Regions from separate parts of the Homo sapiens genome. Here region 2 is linked to region 1. Evidence: fine-mapped expression QTL. Tissue or cell type: unexposed skin. Region 1 holds a variant in brackets; the other region holds the start of a gene. All regions are shown on one strand. Distances are from middle to middle.

The links. PIP is the estimated chance that this variant, and not a neighbour inherited with it, causes the effect.
Region 2: MFAP3L starts here. The variant in region 1 is fine-mapped to the expression of MFAP3L in unexposed skin (GTEx, PIP 0.98).

The regions. Positions count from the first base shown.
Region 1 is chr4:170,000,768-170,009,180 of GRCh38, reverse strand. It overlaps MFAP3L (microfibril associated protein 3 like), which reads left to right. Exons shown (of 3, transcript NM_021647.8): 2 at 3,171-3,601. The coding sequence starts at 3,304. Among named protein-coding and RNA genes, the nearest start is that of MFAP3L, 21 kb to the left of the region's middle. The variant A/G (reference allele first, on the strand shown) is at 3,902.
Region 2 is chr4:170,022,614-170,031,026 of GRCh38, reverse strand. It overlaps MFAP3L (microfibril associated protein 3 like), which reads left to right and starts at 4,632. Exons shown (of 3, transcript NM_021647.8): 1 at 4,632-4,793. RefSeq lists enhancers at 3,407-3,546, 3,536-4,255 and silencers at 3,727-3,796, 4,255-4,654, 4,735-4,824.

The DNA of each region.
Region 1 (8,413 bases):
GAACTCCTGACCTCGTGATCCGCCTGCGTCAGCCTCCCAAAGTGCTAGGATTACAGGCGTGAGCCACCATGTCCAGCTCAACTAAACTTTTCATGGTGCTGTCTGTAAGATCCTAATCCAACAAGCTGAAAAGGTACATTTGCAGAATATTTTGCCAGCGTCCAGAGTCACGTGATATCTTATGTTCTTCAGGCAACACATTGTAATTTGTTCTTAAATAATTGCCGTTGGATTCCATATAAGCATGGCTTCATACAGCAAGTGTGTAAACGTGATTATGGGTGCCTAGCAATAAGGAAATCCTACTGAACTATATGTGCAAGTTTTTGCTATCCAGGAGCTGTCCTTGTAATCGAGAAGGAATTTACTCAAAACAGAAAAGTGCAAGATCATACACCAGGGAGCAGTGTCAAGTTTGGTAGGTGCACATGCGATGGGGTGATGAGAAGGACTAGAAGTTTCTACCCTGTGAGCCATGGGACTCACAGAAAGGGAAAGGCAGAAGAGGGCCTGGATGCTGGATGGGCAGTCAACAAACATCATCTCTAGGTGGCACCCAAGCTGTTCGGTGCCCCTCCTTCCTACCCAACTCCAAGCCCATAGCACCTAGAGAACATATTGAAGTTATCTGTATGTCTTTCCACTACTAGACTGTGAGTGGACATGGTCTGTGGTTTATTGAGCTTTGTGGCACTTCCCATCCCCTAAATCCTGGCAGTGTGCCCGGCACATAATAAATACCTTTTGAAAAATCTGAAGTGAAAGAGTAAATTGAAAGTAAATTCTTACTAAAACTATTAATTCATTAGTGTTAATTCAGTGCTTACTTTGAATCAGTTTTCACAGAATTTTAGAGCAAAACGCTGTGATACAAACAACCTGTAAATGATGCGTTATGTCTTCTGTACCTTAGTGACTTTTCCAGATGGGAGAGGATGGGAATAAAAATGAGGAAGAGGGAAAACATTTTGCTAACTGAAATCCCTGCATAAAACGAAAGTCTCTGCTTCTGTATCTCGTAAGGTCTCTAACGGAACTAGATTCCATTTCAGAACAGTTGGCTGTGTTTCTAGCCCAAAGCACCTACTGACATTATTAAAATATAATAGCACAGCAGTATCCCCTTCTCTTTACTCTGCTAGCACAATGTGTTTGAACGTAGAAAGCCAAATGTGGAGAGCCTCTGTTTGAAAACAGCTCTTGAGATACACACTTTAAAATTCAGTTTGATTTTCCATTTGTGGCATTTTCTTTAACTGGGGGGAAAAGTTATATTTACCACCCATATTTATTAGAACCCATCTCCCAACCTGCCTTGTCTCTGATTCTCCCCTGTGGTATTTAGCCAGGCATCTGCTATGGCTCGGGCACCAGGGAGTCAATAATGAGTGACCCAGCCCCTGCCCTCAACATGCTCACCACAGAATACACCTAAGGGGGCAGCTCATGCATTCTCAGACTTGAGCCCCTGCAAAGGACCCAGTGCTGAAAGTCATTTATAATTATTTATAATTTATAATAACGTTTTAAGCAAAACTCAAGATCTGGCTTTTAGAAGACATAAAAATAGATTGGAGAAGCATCATTTCAATAAAGGATGCTTTATACATTGTGCTAATAATTCTTGTTTATCAAGGCAGCAGTACATAGGTGTTTGGTATACATTTGATTGTGAATCCTTATAATTGTCTTGTACTTGCCCAAGACACACAGCCAGCGAAGGTGGTTATGTCCAGAATCCTGGCCTGGTCTCTCTCAAACCTGAGGCCATGCTCTTCACAGCTATTCTGTATCGAATAGGTCAGCTTTCCAACCACAAAGGAAACCACAAGTTTAGCCAAGTAAAGAAAGACATTTGCAAAGTCATGGCAGGGTGTCTATCATGCCATTGCAGTCTGTGCTATCTCCCTTCGCCACAGGGTTTCAGCTGGTGGCGTAATGTGTTGGCTTCCTAGGGCAGGAAAGCACTCCAGTTTAGTGGGGTTTATGGAAATCTATGGCAAAACAAAACTCTTTTCTTTCCTACTGAAAAAAAATATGATCTGAAGCTAATTTATCATCACCAGGTACCCCTTCAGTGTTGTTGTAGGCAGAATTGAAATAATAACTTCTGCCTTTGAAGAAGGCATGGCTATAGAATTAGAATGAAATGGAGGATAGAGGACTAGGTGAAGGTTAGATCTTTGGACATAGAAGTGCCGCCAACCGTAATGTCTGGTGATGTTCCCCAGCCTGTGGGAGGCAGATGAGATTGAAACCAGGGTGTACATGAGTGACCTGGAGCCCGTAAGTAACAGTAACACAGAGCAGAGAGCGCTAGATGAGGTGGAGCTCAGAGGAGCATGGGAAGTTGAATGAGACAGTAAGGAGCATTCTGGAAGCTATAATGGGTAGTTAGGAGAATGCCAGAGTGATTCTGATGCAGTCCTTCCAAATGCCGGCAGAGCCCAAGCTGTGACCAGTGACGCAGACTGGAAGTCCCGTTTACTGGGAGAGAAGAGGTTAAGGAACACCCAGGTGAACAATTAGGTCCTCCACAATGAAGACAGGTAATGTGGAGGAAAGAGAGCTTGTCATGGTAAGTGAAAGCAGCCTGAATCCATTTTTGCGCTCTATGAAGCAATATATAAATTTAATATAAGAAATATTTGTTCCTATAAAATCTATATGTTTTGATAGCAAAAAACAAAATTATGATTTCTGTGAAAAATATAATTCACATCCGGAACATCTTATGGTTGTGTTTTGTTTAAAAAGTATGTAGGTTTGGCCGGGTGCGGTGGCTCACGCCTGTAATCCCAGCACTTTGAGAGGCCGAGGTGGGTGGATCACCTGAGGTCAGGAGTTCGAGACCAGCCTGGCCAACACGGTGAAACCTCATCTCTACTAAAAATACAAAAATTAGCCAGACATGTTGGTGGGTGCCTGTAATCCCAGCTACTTGGTAGGCTGAGGCAGGAGAATCACTTAAACCTAGGAGGTGAAGGTTGCAGTGAGCCAAGATCGCCCCACTGCACTCTAGCCTGGGCAACAGAGCAAGACTCCCTCTCAAAAAAAAAAAAAAAGTATGTTGATGTTTGTATTTTAGCTGCATTGCTAACCGTTTATAGTGTTTTGAATGGATGAATGCTAATGTTTATGTGTATATATTTTTGTTTTCTTAAAAACAGGTTCTTGCTCAAGTACCAACTCTATGGACCCAGGACAGGTTTGTCCCATGACCTGCTGTGAACAGTGTGTTGTCTGATAGAAGATTCGGTTGGCAAACCATCTCTCTATTGCCTTACAGAGCAAGCAAAGAAGATGGATCGATTGAAGAGCCATCTGACTGTGTGCTTTCTACCTTCTGTGCCCTTTTTAATCCTAGTATCCACTCTAGCCACCGCTAAGAGTGTGACTAACAGCACTTTAAATGGCACTAACGTGGTCTTGGGCTCTGTGCCCGTAATCATTGCCAGAACTGACCATATCATAGTCAAGGAAGGGAACAGTGCCTTGATTAACTGTAGTGTTTATGGCATCCCTGACCCACAGTTCAAGTGGTATAATTCCATTGGCAAGCTGCTGAAAGAAGAAGAGGATGAGAAGGAGAGAGGAGGAGGTAGGCTTTAAAGTTGTATCAAATGTCATAATAAAATATAAACAGGAGCTTTGGAGCCAGCACCCGTGATGTTAGTTCTTCTCATGCAAATGATTTAAAGATCTCATCTTGTCTTGTTTTTCTAAGGCAGGAGAGAATATATATCCTTAAGGATTCAAAGAAGCAATTAATTCATTTTTTTCCCTCATTGACACAGAAGACAAAGGACAAACACAGAAGTCTTTTTAAAGGCTTCTTGGAATTTTGTAATATAATACATCCAATACATTATAGAGACAAATGTAAAATGGATTTTCCTAA[A/G]TAATATATTCAATTTTTAAGGGAGTTTTGTTTTCTTTCATGGAGATGGCTGGAATAAACAATATAGCCATTGTTTATCATTAAATGTCCATTTAATTCATTGGCCGTGGATTTAAAGACCACACTTCTGAAAGAAACCTCAGTGCAAGTCTCAGCCACTGGCTGGGATTCCTGGAGACCTGGCTGCAGTTTCTAGGCTGAGGCAGGGAGGGAGGGAGGATGCAATAACAAGGAAGGATGTGGGACAACAGGAGACTGCTTGGTTTTTAATAAATGCATTTCTGACCAAAAAGTGTGAGTCACCTCACTCCGGGAAAGACTAGCCAGAGAGAGGATTGGGTCTTCGGGAATCGGTGCATTTCTTGTTTTAGATGCGAGAAGTAATTGTCTGAAAACCCAATCCTGGTCAGATTGACCAGAAGGAGTTAATCTGCTTTCCTAGGCATTTACTGTGTGAAGTAGAGGGGTTGGGGTGGGGGAGTGAAAAGAACATTGTTCTAAAGTAGCAGCTTATTAGTTTCTTCCATTCACATTGCCCTCCTGTTCCACAATTCTTTAACCAATGAGCAATCCCCAAAAGAGTTTCTGCTCCAGGAAAACCTACATTTTAAATCTCTTTCCCTCATTTTATCTTAATTGCCCTGAAAAAAGAATAGAGGCTAATGCTGTATATCTCCTTAGGAGCTAAGTGAATGGAGTTTTCTTGCAGTTGCCTACTTCTGGTTCACAGCTGTGTTCCGAATGGTTGAGGCTGCTAGCCGTCTAATTGGCCAGGATGTGGGGTTTGCTGTAGTGCTGTCACTTACATTGCTTTTGGTTAGCCAGTCAAGGTTGTAGAGCATTATAAAGCTTCTTCCTTTAAGTCAAAATATTACATATTATGAATCGCGTTTAACCTAGGAGAGTCGAACTTTTACCCACCAAGAGGAATTGTGGGACCATAGCAAAGTTAAATTAGAACTCACATTGAAGACATTATAGTTCAAATACCCATTTACTGAAATTTGCCCAAAGTCCTGCTATTATTAAGTGGCTATGACTAGGCCTGTAATCCCAGCACTTTGGGAGGCCAAGGCAGGCAGATCACCTGAGATCCAGAGTTTGAGACCAGCCTGGCCAACATGGTAAAACCCCATCTCTACTAAAAATACAAAAATTAGCCGGACATGGTGGCACGTGCCTGTAATTCCAGCTACTCAGGAGGCCGAGGCAGAATAATCTCTTGAACCCAGGAGGCAGGCGTTGCAGTGAGCAGAGATCACGCCACTGCACTACAGCCTGGGCGACAGAGTGAGACTCTGTCTCAATTTTAAAAAGTGGCTATAACAAGAACCTTCACTACTGACAGTGGAAAGGTGAGGGAACACAACCCCTAGCCCACACTGGTTTTGGTTCCTACAGCCACTTCCTCCAGGACAAGTCAGAAGGCAGTGATGTCACACTTGTGAATGGAGGGCAATAGCCATGGTAACAAAGACACTGCAGGCCAGGTACCTTAGCAGGTCTTTCTGCAGGGCTGAGCTATCGCTAGGGAACCCACGGTGACTGAATCAAAGGGAAGAAAGACCCAAGACCTGGATCTCCCTTTTACATGGACCCTAAAGCAAAGGTTATCCCTGGGTATTAAAAAGCTGGGTTGGGGCACTGAACTCCTCAGTCCTAGAGAGGAAGAGAACTGTGGGAATAGCATAGCACTGGGGCCTGAATTTCAGTTCCAACATTTCGAGGATTATCCCAAAGTGTAGTATCTTACTGCGTCTGAGATACATATGTGGTATCTTAGCGAAAAGGTCCTTGTAACTGCTGACTCAGCGTTGGCAAGCTGACTCTGCACCGTCCCTCCTTCATCTGTGTATTGAGGGCATTGAACTAGTTGGTAGTTATATTTGGCTCCATTTTCTTTTGTTTGTGGGTGCTAAGATGGACTATAGTAGTAGCCTGTCAGTAGACCCCAAGCTAGTGGCCGCCAGTCAAAAGCCTTTGCCACAGAGAACTGCTCCATCAGAATTCAGCACTCTGGTTTGTAGCCAGCAGCCTTGCTGATAAATCAGTTAGCTATTTTAAATCTCTTTAAAACTTTCAAGTTTTAAAAAGAACTCGTGATACTAGTACTTGATGTTCCAGCTCAGCTTTTGTAATTACAATGCATGATGGTAATTTCAGAGCATAAGCAACATGGGATAATATACAAAGCAGTGTACCTAACAACCAAGCAATACACAGAAAACAACAGAAACGAGAGATTCTTGCTCAAAAAATATCAGAATCTGAGAGCTGGAATGGCCTATTGGTAAACCCACAGTCTTTAACTTTTCATTTTTGAAGGGGGAAATGTCCATATTATAATATGGACATAGATTTCCATTTTCAAACCAATAGGCTAGAAGTTTATATGGAGCGGTGTTTTTTGTGTTTTGTTTTTTGTTTTTTTTTTTAAATAAAGAGGTGATTGAATATAGTATGAAAAATACTAGGCCAAGCGCGTGGCTCATGCCTGTAATCCCAGCACTTTGGGAGGCCGAGGTGGGTGGATCATGAGGTCAGGAGATTGAGACCATCCTGGCCAACATGGTGAAACCCTGTCTCTGCTAAAAATACAAAAATTAGCTGGGCGTGGCGGTGCATATCTGTAATCCCAGCTACTCAGGAGGCTGAGGCAGGAGAATCGCTTGAACCTGGGAGGCAGAGGTTGCAGTGAGCTGAGATCGCGCCACTGCACTCGAGCCTGGTGACAGAACGAGACTCTGTCTGAAAAAAACAAAAAAAAGAAAAATGATACTAATATCCTAGAACCTTACCTAGGTACACTAAGACTACTGTTAGAACCAAACTAACAAAATTATAATTTTCATTAACAACTGCTGCCATTTACTAAGTCGCTGCACCAAGTGACATATATTATTTCTAATCCTTATAATAAGCCCTACAGTGAAGTGTTATTAATCCTCATGTATACAGATGAGAAACCAGGTGAAACCAGAGGGTATGACACAACCAGAGTGTGGCCAGCGGGTATTCATTCTCCCTCTGTGCCCCACCACATCATCCTTTAGGTCCTGTAGGTGAAAAATGTTGAAGAGCCTCTCACTCAGACTGAGTGAATATGAGAAGAACTAGATGGAAAAGGCATCCTCACTACCGATAGCAAGGTCAGACAGTGTTAGGATTTGTGCCGGAACATGTGTGTGTACATGGCATGCACATGCACAAAAAGGCGTTCAAAAATCATCGGTGAGTCACTCAAGGAGCACACTGCCATTCACTTTGTGATTAGCCTGGAAAGGAGCAATTTCATGTCTCGTTTCTGCTGAAAAGGTGAGAGAGCTGTTATTCATGCCAGCCCCTCCAGGCCCAGAGAGAATGGGGCTATTTCCTGTCATTGGCAGGAGCAGCAGCTGGTTTGCTTTGCTTGCCTGGTGCTGTCACTTCAATTCCACAGGATCAGGAGAGGCTAATGTGTGATCTCTATCTGGAAGACTTTTGTTTTTGTAGTTCAGCAAAGAACCTGTTTGAGGTAGTCCACACACCATAAAGCAGACAACATGAATAACCACAAATGGCCACGAAATATACTGTTTTCAGTTTTCCTTTTGCTAGAAGTGAGTAGAAATGTATAGTAGCCAGGAATTAAGTCCTAACTATTTCAGGCACTAATTATCCAATGTGTTTTCACTGTTGCTTCTTACTGTGACTTTAAACCATTTACATTAACATTAGCACCTCTCTGAGATAAGTAACGAGGATTTCAAGAAAGTCAGCTGGTTTCAGCCCTTGTAAACATGTCTAGGTTTGTTAGAGATTAAGTTTGAAATTCTTCCATTAAGTTAGGTTTTTTACTTTTCCTGTGGATTTGTTTTCTGTGCTCTTGTAGTGTCTGGTTGCCAAAAACAATTAAGCACTGAGTCTACAATTGTCACAACTGCTACTATAGTGCTATGGAATTCATTATTATAAATTTTGCCTCTAGTTTACTTTGCTTTATTGTTTTTATCCCTCTACTTTTGCAGGTTTCTTTGAATAGATTGTAATATGCCTTTTAACTAGTTCTGCAAGGGACCATGACAAGCTGTGTCAGCCAGTGATAAGACTGTAGTTATCACCTCCCTACTTAATATTTATATATCAATAGGTCGGTGTCCACAGCATTAGATGTAAATTATCCTTTACCTCTAAGATCAGTGTGAAGTGGTGTATTAACCTGTTATACTGAATTCTTGTTTAGTATATTAAATACTTGAGATTTAAAACACTCATCAAGGCCATGTGCAGTGGCTCATGGCTATAATCCCAGCACTTTGGGAGGCCAAGATGGGAGGGTCACTTGAGCCCAGGAATTCAAGATCAGCCTGGGCAACATAGTGAGACCCTGTCTCTATGGAAAAAAAAAAAGTTAGCAGGGCTTGGTGGCACATACCTGTAGTCCCTGCTACTGGGGAGGCTGAGGTGGGACGATTGCATGAGCCTGGGAGTTTGAGGCTGCAGTGAGCCTTGATCACAATACTGCTTTCCAGC
Region 2 (8,413 bases), 22 kb before region 1:
CCAATGCTCCACTCACTCTCTGTTGGAGGGGTTAGAATATAGAAAGGAGAAACTGGAGAGTACCATTGGGCCTGCATCGATTACAAAGCAAAATCTCTATGTTGTTCAACAAGTGCAAAAACAAGCAGCTACTTTACTGGGTTACTCTCCTATGTTCTCCAGACCCTCTAATATAAGCCAAGGCTATGTAAGAAGCACAGATATTAACAACACTTTTATTAATGGGCAGATACCTCTCCCACCCACATAGATCTCTCTGCCAAAGAAAACCCAATACAGGGGCTACTTGAAGTTTTTGACCAAGAGTTATTATTTTTCCTTTTATCCATGTGACTTAGAACTGTTTCTCACATAGAGTGTGCAGAGTCACCAGGAGGACTTGTTAAAAATCACTGCCTCTTGGACTACTCTATCCAGAGGTCTGGAATGGAAACTTCATCCACCAGGTGATCCTGAAGCTGGTGATCAGTTCGCCCATAGTTAGTACCAGGTGCCCCCAGCAGACATTATGAGCTGATAGAACTGTAAAAAATTATGCTAATTCCAAAAAGGCTAGTCTGCCCTCCTGGGGTGCCATGCTTTCAACAGAAAAAAATAAACTAAATCTATTCTAAGGAGTAACCACATAATTAGAAGGTTATTACCACGTTGTGGAAAGAAATAAATACAGTGATAAAGAACAATGGAATTTGTGGGTTAATTAGTAATACAGTGCTGGGCTTCATGCAGTTACAGACCAATAAAACAAGGACATCAGACTGGTTCACAAAATACTTCCTGATTTCTGAAGCTGAAGAAAATTCATTGGGCTTAAGGAGGTCAAATCTGAGAGCTCAATTATCTTAGTCTCCTAACTTATTGTTAGGAGCATAACCATTCAGCAGGTTGCATATGATGTGACTGTTCTGGCATTTTTTCTTTGCAATCTGTTTATAATTCTCAGCAACATTTTTTTTAAATTAATAAACTTTAAACATTATATCAGTCCATATGTTAAGTATTTATTTATTAAGTAAAATTCTATTGAAGACTAAGAACGAAGACACAAAGATGGCTGAGACACAGCCCTTGCGATCAGGTTGCCTACAGTGTAGCGGAGGAGATGAAAGAAAAATCAATCAAGGTTAGGTGTCAAATGAAAACAGGTGAAGTACTCAAGAGGCATTCACCTTGGGAAGATCAGAGGACATCCTGCCTGAACTGGATCTCCAAGGCTCAACAGTTTGTCAGGTGAAGAAAGGAGAAAGAGAGACAAAAGAACTAACAGATATATGGAGGTGTGAATTCACACGGCAGGTAATTTGGACTGGTGAGGATATGGGATATTAGGGGACACAGGCTGGAGACTAATCTGGAAAGGAAGGCAGCAGCCAGTTCATGCTTAAAGTTTGGACCTTATCCTGAAGGCATTATGAATTCACTTAAGGATCTTTAGCAGACATATTGTAATACAATTGGCTTAAAAAGAAAAGTCTGAGGAGCTATGGAGGATGGATTGGAGGGGACACAGAGAGAGGATCCATCTAGGAGTCTGTTGCTCTGTGGTTGATCAGGAAGATGATGGGGACTGGAGTAAGACAGGCAATGAGGCAAGGAAGGGAGGTGTTCAGAAATGAATAAGGACAGGATAGATAATGCCAGGAGACCAGCTGGATGACACGGGAAAGGCAGATGAATGAATCTAGGGTAACGCCCAGATTCATCATGTAAGTGACTGAGAAGATACGGGTACCCGCTAACCAAGCTAGTAAATACAAGCAGAAGAGCAATTGCAGGTCATCCTGTTTCTTCTCATCCTCCTCCTCCAGATTCTCATCCTTTGCACCGCCCCATTGTAGGTGTTCTGTGGTCTCTTCTTCCTGAGAGCTGTCATCCTCTCTGATGATTGCCGCTGTCAAAGGGGTGTTAGCTGGTATGTTCTCACATGGCCATGCGAGGTGTTCATTTCTGGAATCCTTTCTGGTTGATCAGGCAGTTGTTCTGATAGGTCAGCGTCTTCCCTTTATCCATACTATTTGTGTGTGTGTGTGTGTATATATATATATTTATTATTTTTGAGATGGAGTCTGACTCTGTTGCTCAGGCTGAAGTGCAGTGGCGCAATCTCTGCTCACTACAACGTCTGCCTCCCAGATTCAAGCGCTTCTCTTGCCTCAGCCTCCCAAGTAGCTGGGACTACAGGCACACACCACTATGCCTGGCTAATTGTTTTGTATTTTTAGTAGAGACTAAAAATCTCTGTGAAAGATTTTTGAAAGATTAATGTCATGACAGACTCAGGAACAGAAAGCTTCAGATGGATGGAAGTGGCAGTACAGACTGTTGAAAAGACATCTTGTCCACCTTTGTAAGGCTAGACTATTTGTGGTGTGGATGTCAAGGGGTACCTGGGCAAGTTCAAGGGCACTGCTCAGGGCATACCAGCAACAATGGATTCTCAAAGCACAGGAGGAGGATGAAGGGGACACTCCAGCACAAGCTAGGATTCCATGGTGGAAGCAGCTAAGTAAATGTATTCTTCCAGGAGTGACCTTCCATAGAGATAGTGTCTCTGACCACGCTGAAGCTGAACTGGAGCTGGGCAAGGCAGAGAGGTTCAAATGAAGGGTGACTCCCACTATCACACCAAGCCCCACTGGGCAGCTGACCTGCCTGCCCATCCTCCTCCTCCTTAGACAGAAAACAGCGAATTCCATTCGCCTTTCTGCTCTCAATGAAAGGCTCTCTTTGGGTTCTTTACTAATCTACAATCTGTAAAAGTACTTTCCCTGTGACTTTTCTCCATTTCAGTACTGTCTTCTCTAAATGAGAATTAAAAGCAAGTTCCCCACACCGACCTCAAGTGGTTTCTAAGATAGCAAGAGTGCATTTTGCAGGTTGTCTGAGAATTTAAAAGAGATGGGGGAGGGGAGGAAATAGAGTCAGAGTGAATGCAGAAATGCTGGAGAAGAAAACGGGATATAATACTGCGGAATATTTTAATAGTGGGGACACAAATGTCATAATTAATAAAGCAGGTGGAAAGTTCGCGCTGTGGTGCAATTGTAAAGAATGCTTATTAAATACTTAAAAACAAAGAAAATTTACGTTTCTCAAAAGGACAGCTGAAAAATTCCTTGAGCTAAAATGTGTTGCTATTCAAGATGCCATAAAACTAATGTTAAAATATGATATCTCATTTCAATCTTTTTGGGGGAAAAAATCAGGCTTTGACTCACTCATACGACAGATCCCACGCACCCACCCACCAACATGGCCCTTGGCATGGGCGACCTGCCCACGTGTCGATGCAATCGTGCCTCTCTAGAGCCCTGCTTCCATCCGTTTCCCGAGCTTCGATGTCGTGACGAGAGACCGCGGCTACATCAACCTTGGGCAACCAGATGCAGCCGCGTGCGGCAGCCTGGCACTGCCCGGAGCATGCTCAGTCGGGTCCTGACCCACTTCTGCAGGTCCGACCTCGGGGCGTGGGGTCAGAGGCACTACTTTGCCAGTTTGCCAGGAACAGAGAGGAGCAGAGAGACTGAGAGTTGCTAAAGCTCCTCTCTTGGCACAGCAATGCCTGACCCGGCGGCGGAACATGCCCAGTCTGGCTGCCGGAGCCGCCGGGAGCGTCAATGTGGAAAGTCCACCTTTCCGGGTTTTCGCAGCAACCCACCGGGAAGAGGGCGGTACGGGAGTAAAAAGGCCGGAGTGGGGTGTGGCCAAGAGGGCGGGCACTAAAAAGCCGGGGGAAGGAGCCTGGTCCCGCCCCAGAAATTGAGAGTCTCTGTTCTCTTTTAAAATTAAAAAAAAAAAAAAAAAAAGGGAGATAAGGAGGAGAAGAAGCCACTAACATTGCAGGATCGTGTAGCGAAACTTCTGTAGGTACTTAATAATTTTAGAGTACTCTACTTTTTAATTAAAAAATCAACTTATGGTTCATTAGAAAAAACGTGGAAATTACAAATAATATTTTTAAAGAAAATGAAAAAAAAATTCCTGGAACCCCACCACTCAGAAAGTCACCAGGGAACGGCCCGCTGGGTTTTTTTCCAGACTCTTCCATCTGTGGACTTTGCTTTAAGAGACGTTTAAGACTTACAGCGCAGTCGCCCGGGAAGGCCTGAGAAGCTTTCGGAAGCAAGGTGGTTTGCTCGTGATTGCATTTGATTGCAAGGAGACAGGGTAGGCTTGGGGGTGGGTTGACTGGTTCCCATTTAGCGCCCCAGGATGGGACCCTAAGAAGCCTTTTCCTGGGTGTCCTTGAACACGCGTGCGATGCGACGCCCACAGAAGTTGCGGTGGAAGCCCCGGGCGGGAGAGAGAGCGGAGTGAGAGTCCCGCGCTGCCGCGGAGGCCCTGGGCCTGCGGGTGTGGGGCTCTGGGGGCCGCCGAGGCCCGGCCCAGAGGCTGAGCGGACTGAATGCGGGACTCCCCGGCAACTACAGCCTCCGGTGGCTCCTCCGCGGGGCCGCTCCGCAGCACCGACTGGCTCGCGCCGCACCGCCCGCCCCGCTGCCCCCGCCCGCGGCTGCCGCGAAAACCCGGCGGCTACACCCGCGCCTCCGCGCCGCCCGGCGAGCCGCACTGGGCATGCTCGGCCCCGGCCGGCCCAGGCTCCTGTAGGTGGGAAGCTCCGCGCTCCCGGCAGCCGGCGGCGCAGCTCGCAACGCTGTGAGGCGCCGGCGGAGGCGGCTCGCCCGCAGTAGGCGCTACCGGGCGTCCGGCGCAGAGTGCGGCGCAGCGGCCGCTGTCGGGCTGGCCATGGCGAGGGGTGCACGGCGGCCACCTGAGTGGCGCGGCGGTGTCAGGTTAGCGGGGGCCCCCGGCGGGCCGGGGCGGAGGGGCACGGGTGGGAGCCAGCCCCGCACCGGGTCGGCGGCCGAGTCGGCGCCGGGGCCGCCGAACTTTCGGGTGTTTGGGCTGGCTGAGACTGCGGCGGAGGCTGCGCTGCGAGACGCCGCAGGGTCCGGGCAGCGGGCTCCAGGGGGTCGCAGGATGCTTCGAGATCCGTGCGGGGCGGGGGCTGGCCGTTTGGGGACTGCCGCATCCTGGGCTCGAACCGTAACCTTCCGAGGGCGAGGAGCGCGGAATCCACTGCCAGCTGCCGGCGAGCCTCCTAGGTGTCGTGGGGGAAGGGGACGCCGAACAGCCGTGGGGGCTTTCGCTGGGCTCTGGATCTCTCTCATCGCTGTGCCTCAGTTTACCCGGACAGGGAGGAGCGTGCGCTGGCCAGGGCTCCGGAGAACGTGAATGCGGGTTCCGCGTCGGGAGGGCGCCGTGTCCTGATGCCGCAGGAGTGCGGGCGGCTGTGGGTGCTGCGAGCCGCCGCCTCGCTACTGAAGCTCTCGGAGTTTGTCGCATTTGACTCCATAACAAGTTGACATCGAATTGCTTCATGGCGTGGAATGGGGAAACGTGCTTCATCGGATTAAAATACAGAGTGATTGCAGAACCGATTTATTTTAAGCTTGATCATTAAGCTGTCTTCTCCAGCCCTGAAAAAAAAACTTGCAAGCTTTATAAAGCAAGGTAGCAAAAAAAGGTTTGTAGGTGTATTATCTGCTCACATTGTAGAAAACAGTTAAGATACGATCGAACTGTCATTATTTTTAAGGATACTTAGCAGAAAAGTTTGGTTACTGTGGCAATCTTTATTTTGCGTTATCTTCGATTTAATGTTAAAAACTTGGAAACCGAGCATTGCAGAAGCTCAGTGTTTTTTGTAGTTTTCTCACTTTTGTTTCTAGATGAAACACATTTTTTTCAGTTGCTACTATGCTGAACATAGTAAAATCCTTCAAGATGAAATACAAGATGGAAAAAAATGTCGTTTCATGAGACCGTAAGTTATAACAGTGTAGTTCTTCTGACATTTTACTTACACAGAAAGTGCAATTTGTAGGTCCCAGTGTGGTTTCTACAGTTGTTTATTCCTAAAACATTTAGTACCATTAACACTATTAGGATTATTGTATCTAATAGGGGCAAGATAAACAATCCTGTTCTAGTGGGAACTAGTTCTGCTAACTAAAGCTAAATTCTCAAGCCTCTTTTCTATAAGTACCACTTAGTGGGTTCAGTTGTTTTATTCATTAAGCTTATTACAAAACAATTGTTTACATTCTTTATAGACCTTAATAGACTTTAGAAATGCATTGACTTTTCATTGAGTTGTGGGTAGGCTTTAAGGTTGGTGCTTGCTTGCAAGCCTGAGATGGCTCCAGCTCTAATTCTGGATACTCTCTGGGGTGATTTCCCCCAGTATAGAGTTGGCTCTGTCCTGTGATGCTGCATAACCGAGGTTTAATAATAGGAAAGGCTTGAAACATCCAGACAACAGCAGTAGCAACAACATGATTACCATTTTTATGAATTAGAACCTGCAGTCCCCCATTTTAGCCAAATAGTCTGGTTGGTGATGTTCACTCATCCTAAATTTATTTCTAAATACATTTATAGAAAAATAAGTTTGAAAACTCCAACACAAATATTGAATAATTGTGCTTCTCTTTTCTATAAAAATGCATCAAGTTTAAAATCTTTCATGAAGTACTGCCTGCATGTACACCTTATCCTGAACAGCAGGTCTCATATCCTCAGGTGACATTCCCCAGTAGAAGTAGCTAGAGTCTCCCCTTAGCCTTGGGTTCTTCCTGACCTGGAGGAAGCAGCAAGGCCTCAGTTTACTTTTTGTGAATGTGAGGTTTAATACAGATCAATAGGCCCCCTTCTCGATCCACAAATCCTAAGTACAAATCCTAAGTATTTTCTCAGTGTTAAGAGACACGATGAAATTTAATCAAAGACTTACTTACATACTGCCCTTGGCTTCAAAAAGTCCACATTTCCCTAACCTAAAACTCAAAAAAACAACAGGAGTTAGGTTGAAAAGGGGTTTTATTACTGCTCATGAAGAAAAAAATAGACTTTGTAGGCATGTTACAAAAAAAGGTGATCATTTCTTCTCTTTTGTAGTTAACTATTGGGTTCTTGCAGCTCACTTGCTAGGCACGTGATTTTTAGGTTTATTTCCATGTGTTTAGATTTCTAGACTGTATGATGTTGTTGGTGACATTAGACATTTACAGCAAATTACTCCCTTTAAAAATAGATCTATCCCCCAATCCCTGTGACCTTAATTTATCCAATTCCTATTTGGCTTGCAATTTAAATACTCGAGGCATTTTAAATTGTGCTTAATTTGGACTTTTTATTCTACTTTTTAATGCAAGAACTTTTAGATACTGGAATACAAATAAATATTGTAGCCAAGTTGCTTTTAACCTCAACACAGCCTAGCCAGATTTGTTAAACAAGTGTTAGTTTTTGGAATTTAGAAATCATGCAGATACTATCACTCCCCTAAGTTGGCATCTAACCCAGCACTTAGGGTGTGACTTGTCTTTCCTAGCCAAGGCCAGGAGGACACTTAAAACTTTGACAATGTTTTCAATCTATGGCATATCACATTGCGGTTAGAAATGGCCTTAAAATGCCAGTGGTTAATTTTAAGTTTGGTATAATACCTCCCTGGCATGGTTGAAAGATGGTTACAAAGGGTTTGGTTGATTATGTCATGGTGTAACCACTTAAGAGCTATCAGAAGTAGTTTATAAGTTATGCTCCAAACAGAAGTCCTGTGAATGTATTGGTCTTGCCTCTGCTTCCACCTGAGGTCTTTACTCATTAAAATATCACATTTTTTTTTTCCACAAACTTTTATAGTTAGACTCCTGAGGCCACAAAAATGAGTAAGAGTAAGTCACAGTCGAGTCAGGGAGATATGCTTGAGGACAAATAAAACACAGTACAGGATGAGTGCTCCAGAGAGGGATGCACATGGGACTGAGGAGGCGGGGAAATGAACCCCGTAGATTGGAGGAGGAGAGGACCTCATGCTTGGAGTGACATTTCCATGGGAAAAGTCATGATATTTCATTAAGGAATGCCCAAAGAATTAGAAGTCTTCTAAGCAGAGTAGACACTCCAGGAAGAAGGAACATCATTGGGATAGGCAGAATAATGCCCCCCACCAAAGGTGTCCACTTTGGAACTTGGCAGATGTGATTGAGTTAAGGGTCTTGCCATGGGGAGGTTATTCAGGATTATACAGGTGGGCCCAATGCACTTCTGTGGTGTGGGAGTTCAACGTGGGTCTTAGTGGGCAAAAGTCAGAGACTCTGCAGGGCCTTGTTCCTTTGGGAAGCCCTAGGGGAGAATCTGTTTCTTTGCCTTTGCCACCTTCTAGAGGCCACCCCCATTCCTTGTTTTGTAGCCCCATCCGTCTTCAAAGCTCAGAGCGGCCAGTCCAATCTTTCTCTTGGGGCATCACTCTGACGCTGACTTCTGCTTCCCTCTTTCACGTGAAAGAACCTTTGTGATTACATTGGGCCCACCTGAATGATGGCTCGTTAAGACCTGTTTGAAC